Linked DNA regions of Homo sapiens. The protein of the gene in region 4 purifies or fractionates together with the protein of the main gene of each other region. This does not show direct contact. Each region holds a gene or a part of one and is shown on either strand. Other genes may lie near its edges. The genes, in order: SIL1, ANAPC4, PPP2R5E, KNDC1, USP47, PPP2R5A and AHCYL2.

Evidence for each region.
Region 1: the proteins of KNDC1 (region 4) and SIL1 purify together in Homo sapiens (affinity purification with mass spectrometry; one large-scale study listed by BioGRID and IntAct). This does not show direct contact.
Region 2: the proteins of KNDC1 (region 4) and ANAPC4 purify together in Homo sapiens (affinity purification with mass spectrometry; one large-scale study listed by BioGRID and IntAct). This does not show direct contact.
Region 3: the proteins of KNDC1 (region 4) and PPP2R5E purify together in Homo sapiens (affinity purification with mass spectrometry; one large-scale study listed by BioGRID and IntAct). This does not show direct contact.
Region 5: the proteins of KNDC1 (region 4) and USP47 purify together in Homo sapiens (affinity purification with mass spectrometry; one large-scale study listed by BioGRID and IntAct). This does not show direct contact.
Region 6: the proteins of KNDC1 (region 4) and PPP2R5A purify together in Homo sapiens (affinity purification with mass spectrometry; one large-scale study listed by BioGRID and IntAct). This does not show direct contact.
Region 7: the proteins of KNDC1 (region 4) and AHCYL2 purify together in Homo sapiens (affinity purification with mass spectrometry; one large-scale study listed by BioGRID and IntAct). This does not show direct contact.

Annotation. Positions count from the first base shown.
Region 1 is NC_000005.10:139,188,369-139,191,868, forward strand, and holds part of SIL1 (nucleotide exchange factor SIL1 precursor), read right to left. Parts: intron 1-3,500.
Region 2 is NC_000004.12:25,387,263-25,390,762, forward strand, and holds part of ANAPC4 (anaphase-promoting complex subunit 4), read left to right. Parts: intron 1-1,237; coding exon 1,238-1,312; intron 1,313-1,454; coding exon 1,455-1,481; intron 1,482-1,575; coding exon 1,576-1,620; intron 1,621-2,873; coding exon 2,874-2,958; intron 2,959-3,500. UniProt on the Homo sapiens protein: Component of the anaphase promoting complex/cyclosome (APC/C), a cell cycle-regulated E3 ubiquitin ligase that controls progression through mitosis and the G1 phase of the cell cycle.
Region 3 is NC_000014.9:63,536,878-63,540,377, forward strand, and holds part of PPP2R5E (serine/threonine-protein phosphatase 2A 56 kDa regulatory subunit epsilon isoform), read right to left. Parts: intron 2,817-3,500; exon of another isoform or gene 2,816-2,816; 5' UTR 2,809-2,815; coding exon 2,652-2,808; intron 1-2,651. UniProt on the Homo sapiens protein: The B regulatory subunit might modulate substrate selectivity and catalytic activity, and might also direct the localization of the catalytic enzyme to a particular subcellular compartment.
Region 4 is NC_000010.11:133,159,001-133,163,018, reverse strand, and holds the start of KNDC1 (kinase non-catalytic C-lobe domain-containing protein 1), read right to left. Parts: upstream 2,801-4,018; 5' UTR 2,552-2,800; coding exon 2,450-2,551; intron 1-2,449. UniProt on the Homo sapiens protein: RAS-Guanine nucleotide exchange factor (GEF) that controls the negative regulation of neuronal dendrite growth by mediating a signaling pathway linking RAS and MAP2. May be involved in cellular senescence.
Region 5 is NC_000011.10:11,953,472-11,956,971, forward strand, and holds part of USP47 (ubiquitin carboxyl-terminal hydrolase 47), read left to right. Parts: intron 1-1,425; coding exon 1,426-1,473; intron 1,474-1,562; coding exon 1,563-1,693; intron 1,694-2,529; coding exon 2,530-2,704; 3' UTR 2,705-3,500. UniProt on the Homo sapiens protein: Ubiquitin-specific protease that specifically deubiquitinates monoubiquitinated DNA polymerase beta (POLB), stabilizing POLB thereby playing a role in base-excision repair (BER). Acts as a regulator of cell growth and genome integrity.
Region 6 is NC_000001.11:212,351,410-212,354,909, forward strand, and holds part of PPP2R5A (serine/threonine-protein phosphatase 2A 56 kDa regulatory subunit alpha isoform), read left to right. Parts: intron 1-1,408; exon of another isoform or gene 1,409-1,541; intron 1,542-3,500. UniProt on the Homo sapiens protein: The B regulatory subunit might modulate substrate selectivity and catalytic activity, and might also direct the localization of the catalytic enzyme to a particular subcellular compartment.
Region 7 is NC_000007.14:129,231,530-129,235,029, reverse strand, and holds part of AHCYL2 (adenosylhomocysteinase 3), read right to left. Parts: intron 1-3,500. UniProt on the Homo sapiens protein: May regulate the electrogenic sodium/bicarbonate cotransporter SLC4A4 activity and Mg(2+)-sensitivity. On the contrary of its homolog AHCYL1, does not regulate ITPR1 sensitivity to inositol 1,4,5-trisphosphate.

The DNA.
Region 1 (3,500 bases), on a different chromosome or scaffold from region 4:
ATGTACTAATTCCTATTGTTTACCAATTCAGATTGGCCTTCCCTCCAAATAGTGAGTTTTTTTTACCTTATTTGTTTCATACAGAGAAGTGAGGCATGGTCTATAGTCATAGTGCTTGGATTTTTTTAAAAACTCAACTTGAGATCAAAATAATGGGATTGGCTCCAGGGGCTTTTTCCTCACTCCCTTGCTACATGGAACCAGTTGTACATCTCAAAGAGAGAGACAGTCAACTTGAGCACAAAATCTGGGTCAGTGTATGTGACTGTGCCTCCGTGACTTTGCACAAGGACCAGAAATGAGCATACAAATCAGAGGAAAGCAGTGACAAAAGTCAACATTCCCTTGATGAGCTAATTGCTTCATGTCTGGCTGAAGAGCAGAAAGCAAGAGATAAGGAGAACATACTATCTGAGGGACCAGGCAGGCTCTGGACTAGCCAGCCCTACCCCAATAAAATCCCCTCATCAGACACTGCCCCCGAAACAAGGCCTGCTGGCTTGAGCACCTGACAAGAGAGAACCTGAGAAAGATAAGCACTAAGCTGAGTAAGGAAGGAGATGGCAGAGAAGCAGCAAAGTTCCTTGCTACTCACAACTTTTAGTTATTCAGCATGAAATACCTATAACTATTGGTATAAATAATATGTAATACAAACCAACTAAGACAACAATGAGGTGATGGTTAAGATAAAACTTGCTTGGTCAGCATAACCTATCCTGAAACTACGACGTGGCTCAGAAACTGGAAACTATTGTTGTCAATAATGATGACAACACAGAGCATTTACATCAGGGGTCCCAAACCCCCGATACTGGTCTGTAGCCTATCAGAAACCCATCCAAGGAGGTGAGCAGCAAGTGAGTGAGCAAAGCTTCATCTGTATTTACAGCTGCTCCCCAACGCTTGCATTAACGCCTGAGCACCGCCTCCTGTCAGATCAGTGGCAGCATTAGATTCTCATAGGAGCACAAACTCTATTGTGAACTGTGCATGCAAGGGATCTAGGTTGAACACTCCTTATGAGAATCTAATGCCTGATGATCTGTCACTGTCTCCCATCACCCCCAGATGGGACCGTCTAGTTGCAGGAAAACAAGCTCAGGGCTCCCACTAAGTCTACATTATGGTGAGTTGTATATTTCATTACATACTATAATGTAATAATAATAGAAATAGGTTGGGCATGATGCCCATAATCCCAGCATTTTGGGAGGTCCAGGCGGGTGGATCACCTGAGGTCAGGAGTTCAAGACCAGCCTGGTCAACATGGTGAAACCTCATCTCTACTAAAAATACAAAAATTAGCGGGTGTGGTGGTACACATCTGTAATCTCAGCTACTCAGGAAGCTGAGGCAGGAGAATTGCTTGAACCTGGGAAGCAGAGGTTGCAGTGAGCCAAGACTGTGCCACTGAACTCCAGCCTGGGTGATGGAGTGAGACTCTGTCTCAAAAATAATAATAACAGAAATAAAGTACACAATAAATATAATGTGCTTGAATCATCCCCAAACCATCCCCCACATCCCCCAGTCCATGGAAAAATAGTCTTCCATGAAACTAGTCCCTAGTGCCAAAAAGGTTGGGGACTGCTGTTTTACATTGTGCCAGAGGAAGCACCATATCTATTCTCTGAATTCTTAAGATAGCTATAAAAATACATATTACTATTCCCATTCAACAGATCATAAAACTAAGGCTTAGAGAAAATAAGTAACTTACAATCTGACAACTAGTAAGTAGATATCAGAACGTAAATACAAGTGAGTCTGACTCCAAAGTGTGTTTAAACCACTCTGAAATACACTCATTCCTTCTCTCTTTCTCTTAGAGATGTCTTGAAGGTTTGCTTGGATCACCAGATAAGGTCCACTGTTACATCTGGCCTCATTCTTTACAGAAACACACAAGTCTGGCCTGAGCACTATTTGTTTCTAACACGGAGGAAGGCTTCAAATTCATTTCCTCTGAGGTAAGAGCAAGAGAAACACATTTCGACATGAGTAGGAGGAAAAACAGCACGACAGCAAAAATCTTCAACCATGAGGGTATAAGATCATGTACAAGGCAGTAAGTGGAGACAGGGCCTCCTCCTTCCCAGGAGACTTTTAACTGCAAAAGCATCCTGCATCTTTACAATGCTTTAAACAATTCTAACAACTTCTATGGCCACCCTTTGTAAGACCCCTAGCCTGTGTCCCAGCTCTAACACTAGAGTCCCACTATTATGTGGGTGGCCTAAAAAAGATCCTACCATTACGTGGCCCACTTCACTTCTCTGGGGCTCAGTTTTTGTCGTCAGAAAAATAAAAACCTATCAAATGCAAAATGGAGGCATTGGGCAGTAACAGAACTAGAAGTGTATCTCCTGACTCTTCACTCATCCACAGTACCACAAACAGCCAGCCCTGATGTTTGCAAGGAAATAAAGATCTCTATAATATCTTCCAGCCCAAAACACAATCATTTTAGACTTTAGCAGCTGGGTCCAAGGATGGAGACTTAACTTCAAGAATACAGTCAAACCCAACTCCCCATGAGTATGAGATGGGGTGTGGGGAAAAACAAGAAGCAACCTTAGGCCAGAGACAGTGGCTCACACCTGTAATCCCAGCACTTTGGGAGACCGGGGTGAGCAGATTACCTGATGTCAGGAGTTCAAGACCAGCCTGGCCAACATGGTAAAACCCCATCTCTACTGCAAATACAAAAATTAGCCGGCCATGGTGGCAAGCACCTGTAATCCCAGCTGCTTAGGAGGCTGAGGCACAAGAATCACTTGAACCTGGGAGGCAGAGGTTGCAGTGAGCCAAGATCACACTCACACCTGGGTGACAGTGAGACTCTGTCTCAAAAAAAAAAAAAAAAAAAAAAAAGCATCCTTAAATACTTACTTACAACTTACTTATGAGCTGGCCCCTTAAGCTTCCAATACACACTATCCACAGCACTCAAAGCATGGCCAATCAATGTTGTCTGTATCGATTGTCCTACTTTATGTTATTCCACTGGGCTGAAGCCTGCTAGTTTTCTAGTTTGGTCAGATGGCTGCTTTCCCCTTGGGAGCCTCACAAAAATGAGACTATCCCCAGAGGTAAAGAAATGTCCATTTAAAAGCCCACTGGTATAGCTGGGCATGGTGGCTCACACTTGTAATCCCAGTGCTCTAGAAGGCCAAGGTAGGGCATCACTTGAGGCCAGGAATTTAAGATCAGCCTGGGCAATGTTGCAAGCAAGACCCTGTCTCTTTAAAAAAAAAAAAAAAAATTAAATTAGCCAGGCATGGTGGTGCACACCCATGGTCCTAGCTACTTGGGAGGCTGAGGTGGGAGGATCACTTGAGCCCAGGAGTTGGAGGTTGCAATGAGCTATGATCACACCACTATACTCCAGCGTGGGCAACAGAGTGAGACCCTCTTAAAAAGGGCCAGGCACAGTGGCTCACGCCTGTAATCCCAGCACTTTGGAAGGCCGAGGCCGGCAGATCTCGAGGCCAGGA
Region 2 (3,500 bases), on a different chromosome or scaffold from region 4:
TTTCTTTTTTGGGGAAATATGCTAATTTTCTTACCATTAACTTTTCCTTTCTAATTAAGTTATACTAAGGTAATATCAAATGAATTTGTAAATCCTGAATATTAATTGCCAGCTTTCCTAAGGGAAGCCTGAAAGAATTGGATGACAAGGGTTTGACCTGGGGTTTGAAATTCACTGTAGATAAACCAGAGTGATAAATCCATCATCAGATAATGAAGGATTACAAATCGTTATGTGAATATGTAGAATGTTAGAGGGTCAGAGCATATCATGTAATTCCTATTCCAGCCCGGTTATCTGCTGTGTGTATTCCCAACATACTTTCTACTAACAGTTTAGAAGTGTTATGTGGCGATTCCAGGGTCTCTCAAGACAGCTCCTTTTTATTAAAGTAGGAAAAAATACTTGCTAAATCACCACTTTTTTACTTGCTTACTCATTTATTTCCAACCTTATTTGGAGTTAGAATTGAGAAGGAAAAGGGGGTAAATAAGACTATTTCAAAAGGCATGGTGTAGTCTCAAATACCTGTTGGATTATCAAATCCACAAGTGTGTATAAGTCATAGAACCAATAACTAAATCACATAGTAGGCCATGCATAGTGGTTCATGCCTATAATCCTAGCACTTTGGGAGGCTGAGGCAGGAGGAAGGAGTTTCAGACCAGTCTGGGCAACATAGTGAGACCCCCATCTCTAAAAAAAAAAATGTATATATTAGCTGGGTGTGGTGGCTTGCACCTGTAGTCCCAGCTACTCAGGAGGCTGGGGCAGGATGATGGCTTTAGCTCAGAAGGTGAAGGCTGCAGTGAACCATGATCACACCACTGCACTCCGGCCTGGGTGAGACCCTGTCTCATAAATAAAAGATAGTGCTACTCTTAGTAGTCATATGTTTGGTGTGAGTTCTTAAATGAGAGTTAAGAAATCATAAATTCTCAGTATCTGAGTACATATGAATGCATTTCATATGCTAAGAAAAGTGTTTATTAATATCATTTCTCTAAATGTAACGTGTGCAGGCTGATGTTTTTTTTCCCCTAAAATAACAGAAATTCCTACTTTTCAATTTCCTATTTGGGACTGTTAAACTGACTACAACTGTATAGTATTTGTGTCATCTATTTACTTGATAATGTTGTAAAACTGGGTATCTTTTTTAAAAATTAGCATTTTTAATGGCAAGAGAAGTAAAATCTTTGGTGTTTTTATAATGCTTTTATTTTTTCCTTTTTAGTGTTCTCACATCATTTTATAATGCTGAGGATGAATCAAATCTTCTCTTACCTAAACTACCTACACTGCCAAAAAAGTATGTATCACTGGTTTCTTTGAAATTAATCTTGCAGATTTCTCTTTCTTCTGCTTTTAACACTGTGACAATTTTCTCATGCGTTTTAAAATATGTATTTTTACTAAGAGTATTTTTTACCTTAATCTCTGTTTCCTTCTAGCTATAGCAACACCTCAAAAATATTTAGGTAAGATACGCCTTTTCTTGTTTTCAAGTAAGATAATCTGCTATTATTTGGAAGACAGAATTGAAAGATGACCCAATTTACTTCTATATTTTAGTGAAGAAAATTCTGATGAAATTATTAAGCTCTTGGGAGACGTCAGGTAAATCTTACAGATAAATAAGTCTAATTTCTTAAAGTTATTTCATATTTGAGGCAGTTTTCAGAAGCTTTAAGAGCAAATCCTTTATTTGCCATTTTATTTCATTGTTTTTTGTTTTTGTTTTCTTTTTGAGATGGAGTCTCTGTCACCCAGGCTGGAGTGCAGTGTCGTGATATTGGCTCACTACAACCTCTACTTCCTGGGCACAAGCGATTCTCCTGTCTCAGCCTCCTCCGAGTAGCTGGGACTACAGGCACGCGCCACCACACCCAGCTAATTTTTTTTTTTTTTTTTTGAGACGGAGTCTCGCTCTGTTGCCAGGCTGGAGTACAGTGGCGTTATCTCGGCTCACTGCAACCTCCGCCTTCCTGGTTCAAGTGATTCTTCTGCCTCAGCCTCCCGAGTAGCTGGGACTACAGGCACCCGCCACCAGGCCTGTCTAATTTTTTTATTTTTAGTAGGGACGGGGTTTCACCATGTTGGCCAGGATGGTCTCGATCTCTTGACCTCGTGATCCACCCGCCTTAGCCTCCAAAAGCGCTGGGATTACAGGCGTGAGCCACCGCGCCTGGCCTAATTTTTGTATTTTTAGTAGAGACGGGGTTTCACCATGTTGGCCAGGCTGGTCTCAGACTCCCAACCTCAGATGATCCACCCGCCTTGGCCTCCCAAAGTGTTGGGATTACAGGCATGAGCCACCGCACCTGGCCTTATCGTTGACATTAATACCTTCAAACAATATATAGACCTTAATATCTATTATTGTTTTTATTGTGTGGCCTTTCGTTTTATGAAGTTTTAATAATAATATGATGTACATATGTTTATTTTAATAAGTTAAAGGATATAAGTACTAGAGTTTCTAAAATTTTAAGTATTCATGTTTTTTAAGCCCATTTAATATATTTAGCATCATAACCATGATAAAACTGATGGCACTTTGTATTAGTTGGTAAAAGGATTGTTTTGTTATTGAGAGTGTATAAATATAGTTGTTATTAAAATAATGTATTCTTATTTTACTGTAAGCTGATTTTTTTTTAGGCTAGAGGAAATTTGTGTTCTTTGAAAAAAGGAATGAGCCTGATGTGACTGAATATTGAGTGTTAGTGGATTTGATGTCTCACTTCCCTCTGCAGGGGAGCTTTAGCATGTAGATTATATGAAAGCAGTAATAATTTATATCTCGCTTTAACAATGCAATCATCTGTGTTGTTGATTGGTTCTCAGCTTGTTGCATTGTTTTTAATTAGGCTTAATATTCTCGTCCTTGGAGGAAGCTCTGGATTTATTGAGCTTTATGCTTATGGAATGTTTAAAATTGCTCGAGTCACAGGGGTAAGATTTCTTTAACATTTTCTCTTCCTAAATTATTTCTCTTAGAATATACTAGGTACTTATGGAAAAAGAATAAAACACTAGGTTTTTTTTCAGTTTCGATTTTTGGAATTATTCTTAAATGTTCAGAGACTAATTTCCTTACTAAGATAAAATAATTGTGATATGTCTATAAAGATTGGGAGCTATTTGTGGAATTAGTCAAGTTTTTTTTTCTTTTTCTTTAACAGAAAGATTAGTATGATACACTTGATTATGATTTGATGTTTTTCTAGTGTGAGATGTAAAAGAGCTTCAATTTGTGATTGGAATGTAAATCTTCAGAAGCATTCTTAAGTCCAGTACTGACTGTACTATAGTTGCTACGTCTCAGTCTTCTCCATAGCTTTTTCATCAGACTCTTACACTCGCAAAAGGGGTAGAAAATATTGTAGGCTCTGTGGAATATGTTGGTTCTGCAGCACTTGATTTGAGACTTGGGTAGGGGTGAGGGAACCAGGTTATTTTTGTGGCCTTGTAACTAGAAAGGTCCATGCAGGCAG
Region 3 (3,500 bases), on a different chromosome or scaffold from region 4:
GGGAGTCAGTGTTTAACAGGTACAGAGCTTCAGTTGGGGAAGATGAAAAGGTTCTGGAGATGGATGGTAGGGACAGTTGCATGACAATGTCAAGGCACTTAATGCACATTTAAACATGGTTAAGATGGTAAATTTCATGTTATGTATATTTTACCATAATTTTTTAAAATGAGAAAAAAGACATGAAAGCATTAAAGAAAAAATACATTAAAGCATGTGTCCAAATTCTTCTCATGCATGCTTCTTTCACTACCCACAAAACCAATACCCTGACTATGAGTGGTCAGTGAAGTCCTAATTTAATTGTTTACCATAAGATCCAAGAAATTAGTGTAAGTTTTTAAATTCCTTCTAATTCTAAAAAAAAAAATTTAACTGGCTTCCTCAGAATGAAGTCCTTTACAGATACAGAAGTTAACACCCATTACATATCTACTTCAGATTAAATAGATTACTAAAAACCAGTGTCTCCCAACTTTGTATTTCAAGCATAGTTCAATCTACAGTGTTTCCTACATTTTCTTTCCAAAGCCTCATAATGACTATTTTCATTTTTACCAGCAAAATCTCTAGTCAAAATTTTCTCCCCCAAAGCTCACAGGAGCTCATCTTTACTGACTGGTAGATATATCATCTTTACAGTAATCAGTATTCAGTTTCCAAAAATTTTGTATAAACATTGGAATCTTATTTATGAATCTCTCTCTCTTTTTTAAAAAAAGTATTCATATGGAAAAAATAGAAGCTTGAAATATCCTAAGCTAAATTTTGAGGATCTTTTCCGGTTACATTCCAGTTTTTCTTATAATACCTTCTGATTTCACAAACTGTTACAGAAATAAGTCTGCAATAATGAACTAGCAAACCAGGTTGCCTGGTTTCCTCCAAGCCACACTAAAGCTCATTGTGTTGTTCATATCCCCTTTCTCCCATTCTTCAGTATTCAGCACATAAACATCCACCTCAAAGGTAAATTCTGATAGTTTCCACACTATAAAAGCTATGTTCTGATATTTTTCAAACAACACCTGTTCATAAACATGAAGCAAACATGATGAAAATTAAAAGGGACAAAAAGTAACCACATACCCAAACAAAAGTTGAAATGCCTAATTTAGAAAAAATTCTTCATATTAAAAACGTGTTGGGCCGGGCATGGTGGCTCACGCCTAAATCCTGGCATGGGAACACCATGGCAATTCGAGACCAGCCTGTGCAACATGGCAAAACTCCATCTCTACAAAAAAATGGAAAAATTAGCTGGGCGTGATGGCATGCTTCTGTAGTCCCAGCTACTCGGGAAGTTGATCCCGGCTACTCGGGAAAGGGAGGATCACTTGAGCCTAGGAAATAGAGGCCACAGTGAGCCCCAACCTGCACTTTCTTTTTTTTTTTTCCCCCGAGACAGAGTCTTGCTCTGTCACCCAGGCTAGAATGCAATGGCACGATCTGGGCTCACTTCAACCTCTGCCTCCCGGTTCAAGCAATTCTCCTGCCTCGGCTTCCCGAGTAGCTGGGATTACAGGTGCCACCACCGCGCCTAATTTTTGTATTTTTAGAAGAGACAGGGTTTCACCATGTTGGCCAGGCTGGTCTCAAACTCCTGACCTCGTGATCTGCCTGCCTCGGGCTCCCAAAGTGCTGGGATTACAGGCGTGAGCCACCACGCCCGGCCTCAACCTGCACTTTCACTCTGTCCCCACTGAACTCTAGCCAGAGTGACAGCATGAGATTGTCTCAAAAGAAAATTTAAAAAACCAAAAAACTTGTTTTTAACAAATTTCAGGCCAGGCACGGTGGCTCACACCTGTAATCCCAGCACTTTGGGAGGTCAAGGTGGGCAGATCACTTGGGGTCAGGAGTTCAAGACCAGCCTGACCAACATGGTGAAACCCTGTCTCTATTAAAAATACAAAAATTAGCTGGGCATGGTGGCGGGCACCTGTGCTCCCAGCTACTCGGGAAGCTGAGGCAGGAAAATCACTTGAACCCAGGAGGTGGAGGTTGCTGTGAACCAGCCTGAGCAACAGAGGGAGACTCTATCTCAAAAGATAAAAATTAAAATTAAAAAATTAACAAATTTCAAAGAAAAGATCATACTAAACAAGTATGATCATCATACTTGTACATAGAAAGGTATATCTTTTCTACTTGTACTATGTGAAAACAAGAGTGCATGTAAACAACTATAAATGGACCATTTTTTTCTTGATTTTTAAAAACGAATTCTTCCAAATACCATTTTCTATATGTAAATTAATGAATGGTACCATCTCCTCTACTAGGGTCTACTTCCTAAGACCATAATCTGTAGTTGTCATTGTATATAATGTATCCCTAAACGTCAACAGAAGAAAAAATGAAAAACACAAACCCAGACATCTTAAAGTTTCTCTAGTACTTAGTTTACCTACTCATCAATGTGAGATATTCTCCTGATAATGTTTCTTTTAACTTGCCCAAAGACAGACTAAATTGAGCCTTTAAAAAGGAGAGTGGGTATATTTGGTCACACATTAGTAACTTCAATGTATGTGAAGTATCCCATCCCTTCAATTTGCAACACATATAAAACTCTACAAAAAGGAAATTATATATAGATGTAGAAAGATCAATTGAAAAAGAATGCATCACCTGGTCATGAGCCTTACCTTTTAGCAGCGGCAGAGGTGTTAACTCAATAGGCTTGCCTTGAGACCTAAACTGTGAGGAACTTTGCGACCTCTTCTGTCTGGCTTTTCTGACGGACTTCCGAGAAAATCCGTCTACTTTATCCACTGATGGAGGAGTAGTTGGTGCTGAGGACATATCCCTACTGAAGAGAAAGAAGTATCATAAACCCATACATTCCCAAGGTGGAAGCATACATGTGAGTTATACAAATTCTAAAATTCCCATATACAATATTCATGAAAATGGGAATATGTGCTAAAGAAAATAAAATCAGTTAAGAAAAGTCTTATCTTGGCCAGGTGCAATGGCTCACGCCTGTAATCCCAGCACTTTGGGAGGCTGAGATGGGTGGATCACTTGAGGTCAGGAGTTCAAGACCAACCTGGACAACATGGTGAAATTCAGTCTCTACAAAATTACAAAAATTAGCCGGGCATGATGGCAGGTGCTTGTAATCTCAGCTACCCGGGAGGCTGAGGTGAAAGAATCGCTTGAACCTGGGAGGTGGAGGTTGCAGTGGGCCAGGATCCCGCCATTGCACTCCATCCAGCCTGAGTGACAGAGTGAGATTCCGTCCTTTAAAAAAAAAAAAAAAAAGGGCTGGGCCCGGTGGCTCACACCTGTAATCCCAGCACTTTGGGAGGCCGAGGTGGGTGGATCACTTGAGGTCAGGAGTTCGAGACTAGCCTGGCCAACATGGTGAAACCCTGTGTCTACTAAAAATACAAAAATTAGCCAGGCGCAGTGGCATGCACCTGTAATCTCAGCTACTCAAGAGGCTGAGAAGGGAGAACCGCTTGAACCTGGGAGGCGGAGGTTGCGGTGAG
Region 4 (4,018 bases):
TCACCCCCACAGAACATCTCCCTGTCTATCGTGTACTGGTGGTTCTTTGCCTGTACTGGGATCCAACCTGGTCACTTCCTCCAGGACCTGCTGGCCCACTTGCTGATGCTCTGGTAGGTTCCAGCTGAGAGTGTTCTCACACACGCACGGCCACGTGTCTCTGGGGCCCACACCATAGTGAAGTTGCTGGGACACAGGGCACTGGTGCCTTCTACTTCACCAGCGAATGCTGGGCTGTTTTCCAAAGAGGCTGCTCCATTTGTCCTCCCACTGGCGCGAGGGAGAGCTGCTGCGCCGTCCTTGCCAGCACAAGCCGCTGTCCGCTCTTCAGTTCTTGCCAGCCTGGCGGTCTTGGGAAGGCATTCGTGGGGGTGTATTTTGCATTTTCCTGATTGCAATGAGCAAACATCTTTTCACATGTTCAGCAGCCATTTGGATTTTCTTTGGGACCATGTCAAGGGAGGGACATTCCAGGGGCTCCGGTGGGTGTCCATAGGGGTCTATTTCTTGACCCCATCATGGAGCCAGCCATTATAATTAGCTGTAGAATGAGTGAGTTCCTACATCTTATGAAGCCTGCATATGTCCTGGGCCTGGCGCCACCGTGCTTTCCCGGCAGCTGCCCTGCACCCTTGGCCTTCCGGCATTCTGGGATGATGATGCAACCTCACCGTGCCCTCACCTCACCCAGGACGGTTTTCCCATGCAAGTCAGGTGCCCCGATGGAGATTTCAGAACCTTCCAAGCCAAACACGTGTGGGAAGCAGAGTCTGAACGCCAGGGGAATTCTGAGACATGGGGTGTGTTGGGCTCAGTACTGGGCACAGGGTTGGGCCAGGGACCACCCGATGCTTTCCAGGAGTGTCTGCGAAGGGCCCACCTGAACGTTCCCACTGCACGCTGCAAACTCGGTGGGATGACAGTTCACCTGGAGGCCTTGGTGGACGTCACAGGATGGAGCCACCCACCCCAGTACTGTGCCGGCCGGGAGCTGTCCGGCCGGCCCGAGGACACTGGTGTGTGCGTGGGGGTGGGGAGCGGGAGTGGGGAGTGTGCAGAAAGACAGCCTGTGGCTCCAAGTGGGCTCGCGCCTGGCGCGGCGTGTTGTGTGCGTGGCACCGGCTGCTGCCTCCGTGTGCGGAGCGGGGAGGCCCTCAAGGCTCAGGCCTCTGATGCACGAAGGAGCTGTGGGAAGAGCTGCGTCCTCAGGGCCGCCTCCTAACAGATACCCTGGGATGTGTCCTGGGGCGTTTCTGAAGGCTGCGGGCTGCCCCTCCCTCTCGGTCAGAGCCGAGGTGATCTTGGAAGCTTTATTGCCTCCCCTGGCTGCTCCTCTCTGCAGCCTTCAACTGCACCGAATCCAGGCCATGGTGGGGGCGGGGGCATCGCCAACCCCCGCACAGCCTCAGCTGTTTCTAGGTGGCTGGGCCGAGGGCCTCCTGGGGCTGAACCTTCCCAGAAGGACGGTGCTTCCACAGCAGAAACTCCCGGTCCCTTCAGAGCCCACTCCCCTGGGGCAGCAGGTGGGGACTGCGAGGGGGTCAGGCCCGCGGCTGCTGCAGCCGGGATTCCCTGCTCCAGGCTTACTTGGCCGGCTTTAAAGAGAGGGCGCCACAACATCCCACTAATGGCTGCAGGTGACGACGCTGTCACCCGGAGACGCAGGCGCCCAGCGTCTGGGCTCTTGCCTGTTGGAGGTTTGGCAGATCTCGGATCCCTGGAGGGTGAGGGTCCCTCTGGGAGCTGCTGTATCCCCTGGGGGCCACCTCTCATGCTTCCGGGCCTGGCTTGTCCACTCCATCCCAGCCAAGCCAGAGCTGAGCTACAGGGTCAGACCCAGCCAAGGTGGCGTCTGGGCAGCCGGTGCTGTAGGGTGGGCGGTCCATGAGCAGAAGCGCCAGGGTATGCAGATGGCAGGCAGAGCCCCTCTGCACCTTGCGGGGTAGGGGGGTCTTGGGTGAAGGCCCGGAAAACCAGAGAGCAGGAAGCAGCTCTCAGTCTCGGGGGGCAGTCATCCAGCGCTCCCCCCACCCCCCGCTCCTGAACCTCAGCTCCGGGGACCTCATCCCCCAGCTCCTGAGCGGCGCCTGATTGGACTCTGCTGCTCTGCACCCCGCTGGCCTCCTGGGGCCCGGCAGGGAGTAAGCAGACCCCCCTCCGTCCTCCTTGCTGCCCCCACACTGTCCCGCCAGGGTTTCCACCAGGAGCTACCGCGCACCAACTTCTGCAGGGGCTGCCCACCCGCCGCCGTCCCGTGCGCATTCGGGGGTGCTGTCCCCTCCGGGTGAAAATCCTAACGCGGGGGCTGAGAACGGCGGTGGGAACCCCTCGGCCATGGAGGGCGCCTGGGGAGGCGGGAGCTCACAGCCCCTCCCGGGTCCTCCCCCCGGGCGCTCTCCGCGGACCCCTCGGCGGCGGAAGGGGCCCCCCAGTGGGGCCGGGGGCTCACCTCGTCCTCGGGGAGGGTGGGCAGCGGCTCGAAGTCGTAGAAGTCCAGGTCTTTGCCGTCCTCCTCGTAAAGATCCGCCGCGGCCGGGTCCATGGCCTGCATCCTGCGGCCGCGCCGCGCACCGCCCCCGGGGCCTCCGGCTGGGCTGGGCTGGGCTCGGCTACGCGCGCCCTGGCTCCATGGAGACGCGCCCGGCCCTCGCCCGCCCCCGCCCGCCCGCCGCTGCCGCAGTGTCTCCAGGGGACGCGGTCAGGGATACGGGGCGGGCCCGGGGGGCGCGGGGGGCGCGGGGTGCGCGGGGGCTGCGCGGCGCTGTCCGGACCCGGCGCCTAGGGAACGTCGCTCCTTCCTGGGGGAGGCACCGGGGGCGGAGCCAGGCGTGTGGCCTCCGCGGGGAGCCACGGGGTCTGCGCCCCACCTGGGCCCCAAGGGTCGAGGGGCGGAGCCGGCGCCCAGGAAAGCTCGGACGGGCAGACCCCCTCGCCGGCTCCCGCCGCCCCCGTCCCACCCCCGCTGCTGCCGGGCGGGGCTGCCGCAGTCCCGGGGTGGCCTCTGCAGCGGCGTTGGGCAGGGCCGGGCGGGGCCCGGGGTGGGGGGCGGGGCCCGGGGTGGGGGGCGGGGCGGTCGCTGGGCCGGGGTCTCTCCTGAGCGAGGGTCTTTCGGAGGCCCGGGGATGTTGGGGGTGGGGCAATAACGCTGCCTCATCCCCACCTGGAGGCATCGGAGAGACCCACTGGGCACCCGACCCTCCCCGGTCCTGGGGGACCCTGGGGGGTCCTGGGGCTCTTGACCTCTTCCTGCCCCAAAGGCCCCCCGGGGCTTTCTTCAGCGCCAGGGTGACCCCGGCCCACGGTAGTGCCGCGGTCAGAAGAGCCAGGATAGCCCCAAGCTCGGCCAAGAGGCAGGGAGGGTGGAGGAGAATCTCACCTTCCCCGGCCACCCCCAGAACTCCCACAGGAGAGAGGGCGGCTTCAGGGCCCGGCTGTCAGCTCCCCGTCCGTGTGGCTGGCCAGGCACACAGTAGGTACTTAATCCATGCTCCTGGCTTGAAGGAGCAGCAGGGCTTTTGACCGCAGAGTGGGAGGGTGCAGTGTGTTCAGGGACGTGAATTCCCAGCACTCTGTCCCCTGGTCGGTCACCCGGGCTGTCACTCTGGCCTGGCAGGGAGTTCAGGGGCTCAGCTCCCCGGGAGCCAGGTGGGCACTGAAGCCGGAGGCTGGGAGTGGGGCAGGTGCTGGGCAGACTCCCTGCGTCCAGCCAGGCAGCCCCACCTTATTGAAAATGCCCACCCTGGGGCCCACCCTGGTCCACCGAGTCAGCAGTCAGGTGCAGCCTCCCCCATCCTTGGGTGTTTGGAAGCTTGGGCAGCAAGCCAAGGTGGAGTGGGCTGGAGCTGGAGAGGAGGAGTCTCACAGAGGGTGGCCTCAGCCAGCTGTCCCTGAGCTCTCTCTCTGTGGGCCCCACAGGGCCTGCAGCGCCCCAGTCCCTGTCTTGGAAGGAGGCGGAAGTGGCAGGCAGACTCTGCTCCAGGAGCCTGATCCCGCTGCACCCTGGTGCTCAGACCTGGAC
Region 5 (3,500 bases), on a different chromosome or scaffold from region 4:
CTGGAAAAAGATATTTGTAAGCATAATACCAGAAGCCAAAAAAAGAAACTATAGACCACGTAAAAACCTATCCTCTGCATAGCCAAAGAAAAAGGTATTTAAAAAGCAACTCATAAACAAAGCTAAAAGACAATAAACTAGGAGGAAATTATTTGAAGCAGTTATTAAACATGCTGTCCATAATTTATAAGGAGCTACTACCTTAATAAGAAAAAGACGGAACAAATCTAATTTTAAGAAAGACAGCATGAATAGGCAATTTATAGAAAAAGAAATACAAATTAAAGAATAACGTTATTTTTCACTCTTAAATTGGTGAAGATTTAGAAAATCAAAAAATACCTAGAGTTCTCAAGGTTTAGGGGATACAGACAATATATACCTTTGATAAGTGTATAAATTGATATGATTTTTTTCAAGTTCAGTTGGCATCATTTGTCAGTATTTCGGATTTGCAATTAAACATCTGGGAATTCGATCTGTAGAAGTATTTGCAGGTTGGGTGCCATGGCTCACTCCTGTAATCCCAGCACTTTGGGAGGTTGAGGTGGGCAGATCACTTGAGTTCAGGAGTTCGAGACCAGCCTGGCCAACATGGTGAAACCCTGTGTCTACTAAAAATACAAAAATTAGCCAAGTGTGGTGGTGCATGCCTGTAATTTTAGCTACTCAGGAGGCTGAAGCTGGAGAACTGCTTGAACCCAGGAGGTGGAGGTTGCAGTGAACCAAGATTGCACCACTGCACTCCAGTCTAGGTGATGGAGTGAGACTCTGTCTCAAGAAAAAAGAATTTATTTATTTATGTATTTATTTTTGAGACGGAGTTTCACTCTTATTGCCCTGGCTGGAATGCAGTGGTGCGATCTTGGCTCACTGCAGCCTCCGCCTCCCGGGTTCAAGTGATTCTCCTGGTTCAGCCTCCCGAGTAGCTGGGACTACAAGCACATGCCACCACGCCCGGCTAATTCTTTGTATTTTTAGTTGAGACGGGGTTTCACCATGTGCGAGGATATTCATGGAAGTATACAGTAGAGCTTTGTAACTTGGAAAAACTGAAAACAGTCTCAGTGTCCATCAGTAGGAGATAAAATGTATATTGTTCGGTTATTGAAGAGAATGTGGTCACTTTGTATCCTATTCCTCTAGGAACAGAATTATTATATAGAGATATTAATCTGATTTTACATGTTTTAGAAACGTGGGTGTAGTTTGTGTATGCATAGGAAAAGGTCTGGAAGGAATATACTAACTTGGTATTTCTGGGACATGGTATTTGCAGGGTGGCCGCTTTCTGCTTTTTCTTAATTTTTTTACATGAAACATTTTTTAAACTGAGCTATTTCTGTTTGTGGGGTAAAAGGAAAATAACTTTTCTAAGCAAGTTAATTTTTTAAATGAACTCAAATAAAATGTTTTATTTTACAGCTTAGTGAAATCAGTGGGATTCCTTTGGATGATATTGAATTTGCTAAGGTAAAGCCCTGAGAATGTTGCATCTGTGTATTGTGCATGATAAACACAGCTAGTGGCATGATTTATTCATTCATTCTTTTTCTTTTTAGGGTAGAGGAACATTTCCCTGTGATATTTCTGTCCTTGATATTCATCAGGATTTAGACTGGAATCCTAAAGTTTCTACCCTGAATGTCTGGCCTCTTTATATCTGTGATGATGGTGCGGTCATATTTTATAGGTAACATTCACAATGTTTTTGTTGCTGTTAGTAATACATTTTTGGCGTGCATACATATCTTATTTTCCATAAATATCTTTACTGTTTTTATGATATGGAGCGGCACTAACCGGTAGAAATACAGTGACAGCCAAACATGATTATAATTTGAAGTTTTCTAGTAGCCACATTAAAAACAATAAAAAGAAACAGGTGAAATTAATTTTAAAAATATTGTAAACCCAATATATCCAAAATATGATCATTACATGTCATCAGTATAAAAAATCATTTGTATTTTGCATTTTTTTATTGTACTGAGTCTTAGAAATATTGTATGTCTGTTATATTTCCAGCACATCTCAATTTGAACCAGGCATATTTCACAAGCTCAATAGCCACATGTGGCTAATGGCTGTTGTATTGGACAGCACAGATGTAGAGGAAAAAGAATAGTCATTGGAGCCTCACAAATCTGGGTTCAAAACTAGCTTTCTGATTTACCTAGCTCCTCATCTATAAAATTGCAACAATGATGTCTACCTTGCAGGATTTTATGAGAATTAGAGCTGTTGCATGTAAAATAACTGGCACAGTGCCTATTATAGATGTTCAATAATGATAGCTGTTACTACTGCTAATAACATGGAAGTTATTCTCCGCCACTTTTAGAAGTAAGCAATATGTTCCTGTGATTAACACCTTAGAAATCTGGGACATCTCAGTATATAAAATAATATTACTTCACCAGTAACAGATTTCATTATCTTGCTGAGGAGCATCATAGCATTCAAGCATACATTAATAGAGGTGGAGGGCTCTACTGGACTAATATGTGATTAATATTTTATATGTAGGGATAAAACAGAAGAATTAATGGAATTGACAGATGAGCAAAGAAATGAACTGATGAAAAAAGAAAGCAGTCGACTCCAGAAGACTGGACATCGTGTAACATACTCACCTCGTAAAGAGAAAGCACTAAAAATATATCTGGATGGAGCACCAAATAAAGATCTGACTCAAGACTGACTCTGATAGTGTAGCATTTTCCCTGGGGGAGTTTTGGTTTTAATTAGATGGTTCACTACCACTGGGTAGTGCCATTTTGGCCGGACATGGTTGGGGTAACCCAGTGACACCAGCACTGATTGGACTGCCCTACACCAATCAGAAGCTCAGTGCCCAATGGGCCACTGTTTTGACTCGGAATCATGTTGTGCACTATAGTCAAATGTACTGTAAAGTGAAAAGGGATGTGCAAAAAAATAAAAAAAAACAACAAAAAAAGCTAACCTTCTATTAGAAAAGGGGACAGGGGAATGAGTAAACTTCTTTTATTGCGGACAAATGTGCACATAGCCGCTAGTAAAACTAGCCTCAAACAGGATGCTCATAGCTTAATAATAAAAGCTGTGCAAAGGCCATGAATGAATGAATTTTCTGTTTATTTCACTGATGCACACATTACCTCATTGACAATTCAGAAGTAAATCCAACGTGTGTTGACTCTTGGAAAGCAGCAAAAACAGGAGCTGAAGAAAAGAAATTCTTGGAACCAGCCGTAACCCAGTAAGGAATTGTGAAGTTGTGTTTTTATTTTGTTTCATTTTTTGCAGAGTATTAAGAACATTATTCTGGAACATCAGAACGTTTCCCTTAGACCGATCCCAGCAGGTGGCAGCTCAGATTGCTGCAGTGTTGTAATTATAACTGATTGTACTTAAGTTATGGATGTAGAGAATATGTTTCATTCATTTATTCAGCATGTAAATAAAATTGATCCTGTTGAGTTATCATAATTGCAGTTCAACTATCTGCCATGATT
Region 6 (3,500 bases), on a different chromosome or scaffold from region 4:
AAATTATAAGTAGCTCAGAGCTTTTGTTAGTTTATTACTCAAGCCTGTAATCCCAGCACTTTGGGAGGCTGAGGCAGGCAGATCACCTGAGATCAGGAGTTCAAGACCAGCCTGGCCAACATGATGAAACCCCATCCCTACTAAAAATACAAAAATTAGCCGGGCGTGATGGCGGGCACCTGTAATCCCAGCTACTTGGGAGACTGAGGCAGAATTGCTTGAGGCAGGAGAATGGCTTGAACCCAGGAGGGCAGAGGTTGCAGTGAGCCGAGATCACAGCACTGCACTCCAGCCTGGGCAACAGAGTGAGACTCCGTCTAAAAAGAAAAAAGTGCAGAGTGGAAGAATTAACTAAATATTCATTACAGCTAAGTTTCCATGTAAAGAGGAAAAAAATGAAGAGTCGGCATGACTTTCAAAACTTTTATTTTTTTGGCAGTGTAAACCTTTCCTTCCACTCAAAGCTGCATTTTTATAAAACAAGCAAAACAAAACAAAACACCGTTCTTATTCCAAGAAAATCTAACTTGAGCCCCAAAATAATTTTTTTATTTTTCTTTTTTATTTTATTTTATATTTTATTTTATTATTTTATTTTTATTTTATTTTATATTTTATTTATTTTTTTGAGACAGAGACTCACTCTGTTGCCCAGGCTGGAGTGCAGTCAGTGGCACCATCTCGGCTCACTGCAACCTCCACCTCCTGGGTTCACGCAATTCTTGTTCCTTAGCCTCCTGAGTAGCTGAGATAACAGGCGCCCGATACCACGCCCGGCTAGGTTTTTTTTTGTATTTTTAGTAGAGATGGAGTTTCATCATGTTGCCCAGGCTGGTCTCAAACTCCTAAGATCAGGCAGTGTGCCTTCCTTGGCCTTCCAAAGTGCTAGGATTACAGTTGTAAGCCACTGCACCTGGCCCACATTGACATCTTTTTGGGGGCCACTAGTCAACCCAGTGTTCGTTATTCAATACTGCCCGACATTGAAATTTGTGTATGATGAGGGTAAGGAACTACATTTGGGTTTGTTTGTTTGTGTTTTGGGTTTTTTTTTTTTTCAGACAGGATCTCACCACATCACCCAGGATGGAGTGCAGTAGTACGATTGTGGCTGACGGCAGCCCTGACCTCCCAGGCTCAGGTGATCCTCCTGCCTTAGCCTCCCAAGTAGCTGGGACTACAGGCATGCACCACCATGCCCAGCTAATTTTTTTGTATTTTTGGTAAAGATGAGATGGGGTTTCACCATGATGCCCAGGCTGGTATTGATCTCTTGGGCCCAAGCCTGCCTTGGCCTCCCAAAGTGCTGGGATTAAAGGCCTGAGCCACCATGCCTGGCCTGCATTCATTTTCAATTACGCATATCAAATGATCACAAAATTTATTGGCTTAAAATAGCAAGCATTTATGGCCTTTATCAAAGCTGCAGCTGCTTCCATGTAGCTGCTGTGGTCAAAAAGAAGCCAAGAGTGACAGTTTTCCTTGATGGTCATAGTTCTGTTTGCTGTAACTGATCTGCAAGATTTTGGGAAAATACCATTCCATTGGGAGGAAAAATGACAAGCATTTGTTGCCTTAGTTGCTGTGAATCCAGAATCTGGTCATGGCTTAGGTGGGCCCTCTGCTCAGGGTCTCTTACAAAGCTGCAGTTGGAGTGTTGGCCAGAAGTTGAGTCTCATATAAAGTGTCAGATGGGGAAGGATCTGCTTCTAAGTTCACATGTATGTTGGCAGAATTCAGTTTGTCAAGTTATGTTGGACTGAGAGCCTCAGTTCCTGGCTGGCTGTTGGCCAGAGCCCACCCTCAGATCCTTGTCACCCAGGCTTCTCCAGCATGGCACCTTACTTCATCAAAGCCAAGACAGCGAGTCTACTAGTAAGACAGAAGTCACAATCTTTTGTATCTTACTCATGAAGTGACATTCTTTCACTTTTGCCACAGTCTGTTCGTTAGAAGCAAGTCACTAGGACAGCTCACACTTAAGGAGAGGGGATTACACAAGGGTGTGAGGACAGTTAACAAGCTCATGAGATCATCATAGAAGTCTGCCAACCAAAGGAGCCTGCTACATTTTTCCTTTCTAAATAGTGAGCTACCTGTCCCAGTACCACCACTGTTTCCCATGGAACTGAAAGGCCACCTTTGTCATATATTAAAATCCATATATACATGAGTATATCTAGATACTCATATATATCTTTTCTCTCCATTTCTTTGCCAATATAATCTTGTTTTAGTTGCTGATATCCATAATACAGGTTCTGTTCCATTAACTCCCCCCACCAAAAAAACAATTCTTATTTGCTTATATTTATGGATTTTAGAATAAATGTTTCTAGTTCCAAAAAATAATTCAATTGGCATTTGATTGAAATTATATTAAATTTACTTATAAATTAAGTACAGGAAAAATATCTCTGCACAATATTGAACCACCTCACTTATTTACAGTCATGTGCTGCATAATGACATTTCGTTTAATAACAGGCTACGGGCCGGGCGCTGTGGCTCAAGCCTGTAATCCTAGCACTTTGAGAGGCCGAGGCGGGTAGATCACGAGGTCAGGAGATCGAGACCATCCTGGCTAACACAGTGAAACCCCGTCTCTACTAAAAATACAAAAAATTAGCTGAGCCTGGTGGCGGGCGCCTGTAGTCCCAGCTACTCAGGAGGCTGAGGCAGGAGAATAGCATGAACCCGGGAGGCAGAGGTTGCAGTGAGCCGAGATCGTGCCACTGCACTCCAGCCTGGGTGACAGAGCGAGACTCTGTCTCAAAAATAAATAAATAAATAAAAATAACAGGCTACATATAAAATGTCAGTCCCAGACAGGCGTGGTGGCTCAGGACTGTAATCCCAGCTACTTGGGAGGCTGGGGTAGGGGGATCTCTTGAGCCTAGGGGGTTGCAGTGAACTGTGATCACACCAGTGCACCCCAGCCTGGCCGACAATGCAAGTCTGGACTGTCTCTTAAAAAATAAAAATGGAACTGGGCATGGTTGCTCATGTCTGTAATCCCAGCACTTTGGGAGGCCAAGGTAGGAGGATTGGTTGAAGCCAGGACTTTAAGACCAGCCTGGGCAACAGAGCAAGACCTCGTTTCTACAAAAAGTAAAAAATTAAAATTAGCCAGATGTGGTGGCATACACCCGTAGTCCCAGCTACTTGGGAGGCTGAGGCAGGAGGATCATTTAAGCCTAGGAGTTCAAGGTTACAATAAGCCTAGGAGTTCAAGGTTACAATGACCTCTGATCATGTCACTACACTCCAGCCTAGGCAACAGAGTGAGGCCTCATCAAAAAGAGAGAGAAATGTTGAGAGAGAGAGAGAGAGAGAGAAATGTGATTCCAAGAGAAAGAAAAATGGTGATCCCATAAGATTATAATGCTATATTTTTACTGTACCTTTCGTGTTTAGATACACAAATACTATTGTTACAACTGCCTACAGTGCCTACGGTATTCAGTACAAGAACATCCTGTACAGGTTTGTAGCCTAGG
Region 7 (3,500 bases), on a different chromosome or scaffold from region 4:
GAGTGAGTTAAGGAATTCATGAGAGGAAAAAAGCACATATAGCATGTACTGAAAACTCCTTTAAGAAGCATGCCTGTGAAAGAGAATAGAAAAACATGACAGCAACAGAAAATATGCAGGTCAAAGGACAGGGTTTTCAAAATGGGAGACAATAGGGCAAGTGTGAATTCTGAAGGAAAAGACCTAGTAGAAAGATGAAATAAACCAAAGGAAGAAATTCTTTAAGACAGGAGAGGCCAAGCACAGTGGCTCACACCTGTAATCCCAGCACTTTGGGAGGGTGAGGCAGAAGGACTGCTTGAAGCGAGGAATTCGAGGCCAGCCTGGGCAACAAAGTGAGACACCATCTCTACAAAAAGTTTTTAAAATGTGGCTGGGTGCAGCGGCTCATGCTTATAATCCCAGTACTTTCAAAGGCCAAGGAGGAAGGATCACTTGAAGCTGGGAGTTCAAGACCAGCCTAGGCAACATAGCAAGAGACCCCATCTTGGCCAGGTGTGGGCTCGCGCCTGTAATCCCAGCACTTTGAGAGGCCAAAGTGGGCAGATCACAAGGTCAGGAGTTCCAGACCAGCCTGGCCAACCTGGTGAAACCCCGTCTCTACTAAAAATACAAAAATTAGCCAGGCACAGTGGCGGATGCCTGTAATCCCAGCTACTTGAGAGGCCGAGGCAGCAGAATTGCTTGAACTCACGAGGCGGAGGTTGCAGTGAGCCGAGATAGTGCCACTGCAGTCCAGCCTGGGTGACAGAGTAAGGCTCCATCTAGGGGGAAAAAAGAGACCCCATCTCTACAAGAAAGTCATAAAAAAATTAGCCAGGTATGGTGGCATGCACCTATAGTCCCAGCTACTCGGGAGGCTGAGAAGGGAGGTTCTATTGAGCTCAGGAGGTTGAGGGTGCAATGAGCTATGACCACACCACTGCACTCCTGCCTGGGCTACAGAGTGAGACTTCATCTCTTGAAGAAAAATGAATGAAAACAAAGAGAAAGAGAGAGAAGAAAGATAGAAAAAGAAAGGAGGAGGAAGGGGGGAGGGGGAGAAAAGAATGATTACAGCACCTGTGAAGGGATTGGTCTTGACAGAATGAAGGAGAAAAAGATGAGTCCCAGATGCACATAGGTTTGTAGACTTGGGAGGTAAAAGAATGAAGGAATTCCCATTCAGCAGCTTCCATTTTTATAATGAGGCATAAAGCCTATGACTGGTTAAAAAAGAAGAAAATATGAGAGATTAGAAATAAGAGCTGGGCACGGTGGCTCATGCCCATAATCTCAGCACTTTGGGAGGCTGAGGAGGGCGGATCACGAGGTCAGGAGATTGAGCCATTCTGGCGAACACGGTGAAACGCCATCTCTACTAACAATACAAAAATTAGCTGGGCGTGGTAGTGCGTGCCTGTAGTCCCAGCTACTCATGAGGCTGAGGCAGGAGAATCGCTTGAACCCGGGAGGCGGAGGTTGCAGTGAGCGGAGATCGCGCCACTGCACTCCAGCCTGGGGACAGAGCAAGATTCCATCTCAAAAAAAGAGAAAAAGAAATAGAGACAGTAGGCCAGGCACAGTGGCTAATGCCTATAATCCCAGCACTTTGGAAGGGTGAGACAGGAGGATCACTTGAGCCCGAGAATTGGAGACCTGCAACATGGCAAGATACCGTCTCTACAAAAAAATAAAAAAATAGCCAGGCGTGGTAGCACACTTGTAGTTCTGGCTACTCAGGAGGCTGAGACAGGAGGATTGCTTGAACCAGGGAGTTTGAGGCTACAGTGAGCTGTGACTGTACCACTGCACTCCAGCCTGGGTGAGAGAGGGAGACCTTGTCTCAGTAAAAAAGAAAAGAGAAAGAGACAATATGAAGAAATAATTCGCAGTGAGCTGGAAAGTGAACTAGAGAAATGTATAACATTGCTAGGTAATGCTGATTATGCATATGAAATAGATGATTATAAATTTTTAATGACACTGATCTGTCTAATTTGCTGATTTTCTCTAGCAACTCTCAGCTCCATGAGTGCCAGCAACTAAGAAGGTAGATGGTTAGGTTCAACCCGTACATCACTCCAAGTTCTACAAGCAGCAGAAGTCAACACTGGCTGAATTAAACAGAAAAAGAATTTACAGAAAGGATATGAGGTCACTTTTTCAGTGAAGAACTTAAGTGCTACACAGCTAAAACAACACTCAAAATTACAGAACTGGGTTGGCAAAGATGTGATTGCTAATGCCAAGCAGGAGATGCTGCAGCTTGGTTTGCACCATCACAGTTCTGGATACTAAGTGCTAACACTTGCCACTGTTGCCCTTATAACTTGATCTTGCTGCTAGAGACTGATACTACATGTGAATCTGCTGATCAAGGAGGGGGATATTGTAAAGAACATGGTGGAACAGTTTGAGGGACTGAATCAGCTGAAGGATGAAGAGAGTGGTAAAGGAATTAGTATTGGGAAGATAATGGATGGCGGATGGCGGGTAGTGACTGAAACAAACAGGGATGTGAGGCATGGTGTTTAGGCCTCCCCTTGAAAGAGGCTAGATTGTGAGATCCAAAGTGGTCTTAGCAGCAGCTTAAGCAGACTTCAGTGGGAGTCTGGTCAGAGCAGCACGGGTGTTGGCACAGAGGCAAAGCTGCCCAATATTGCTATGGCCAGCATTTCATTGACAAAGCCTTGGACAAGTTAATTACTCTCTTTGAGCCTATATTTTCTTATCCATAATATAAAGATAGTACTACACATCTGATAAAGTTGTCATGAGGATTAAATACTAAGACAGAGATTCCTGACACGGAGTAAGTATTCAGTAAATGGTAGCAATTATAAGTGACACTGAAGCCAAGAGAAGAGTTTCCAAGAAAAGGTAGTCAATAGATGAAGTTTCACCTTGGAGCACTGTAGAATGTAAGTGTGTGCAGAGAAGATGAAGCTAGTTTTAGCCTCAGGTTTGCAACATTCAGAAAGGCTAAAGTCCTATACTCAGAGAAACTCAATCAGCAGTTCAAATACCCTTCCTTTATATAGGTTCTAAGCTAAGAACTAGGTGCCCCAAACCAATAGATTTCTACTGATAGACCCTTGAAAAAAAAAAAGAAAATAAAATCACCAGCTTTTAGTGCAAGCGTCCAAGAGGGAAATAGCTAACTGAACTGTTGCACGATACAGCTGGGGAAAAGGGAGACTGAAACCCATACAAATAATCATCTAATTTAATCAAAGTAATTTTAGAGTTGGGAACTGTTACAGAAGAAACGTCAATCCACTGCCGCTTTCTGCTCTGCTCTCACCAAATCGCAGGCCATAGGTCATTCAGACTATAAAAAGCTCCTACAAATTCCATAGAAATCTGATCAAGTTTACTAAACCTCTTGTTGGGTGAATGGAATTTCAGCTCCTCTAATTGTGTCTACCACCTAAACATGACAGCAGGGCAGTGGATCAGGGCAACTGCCAAGATTGTTCTCTTCCCATCTGCCTCAGTTGTACCTCTCTAAATTATTT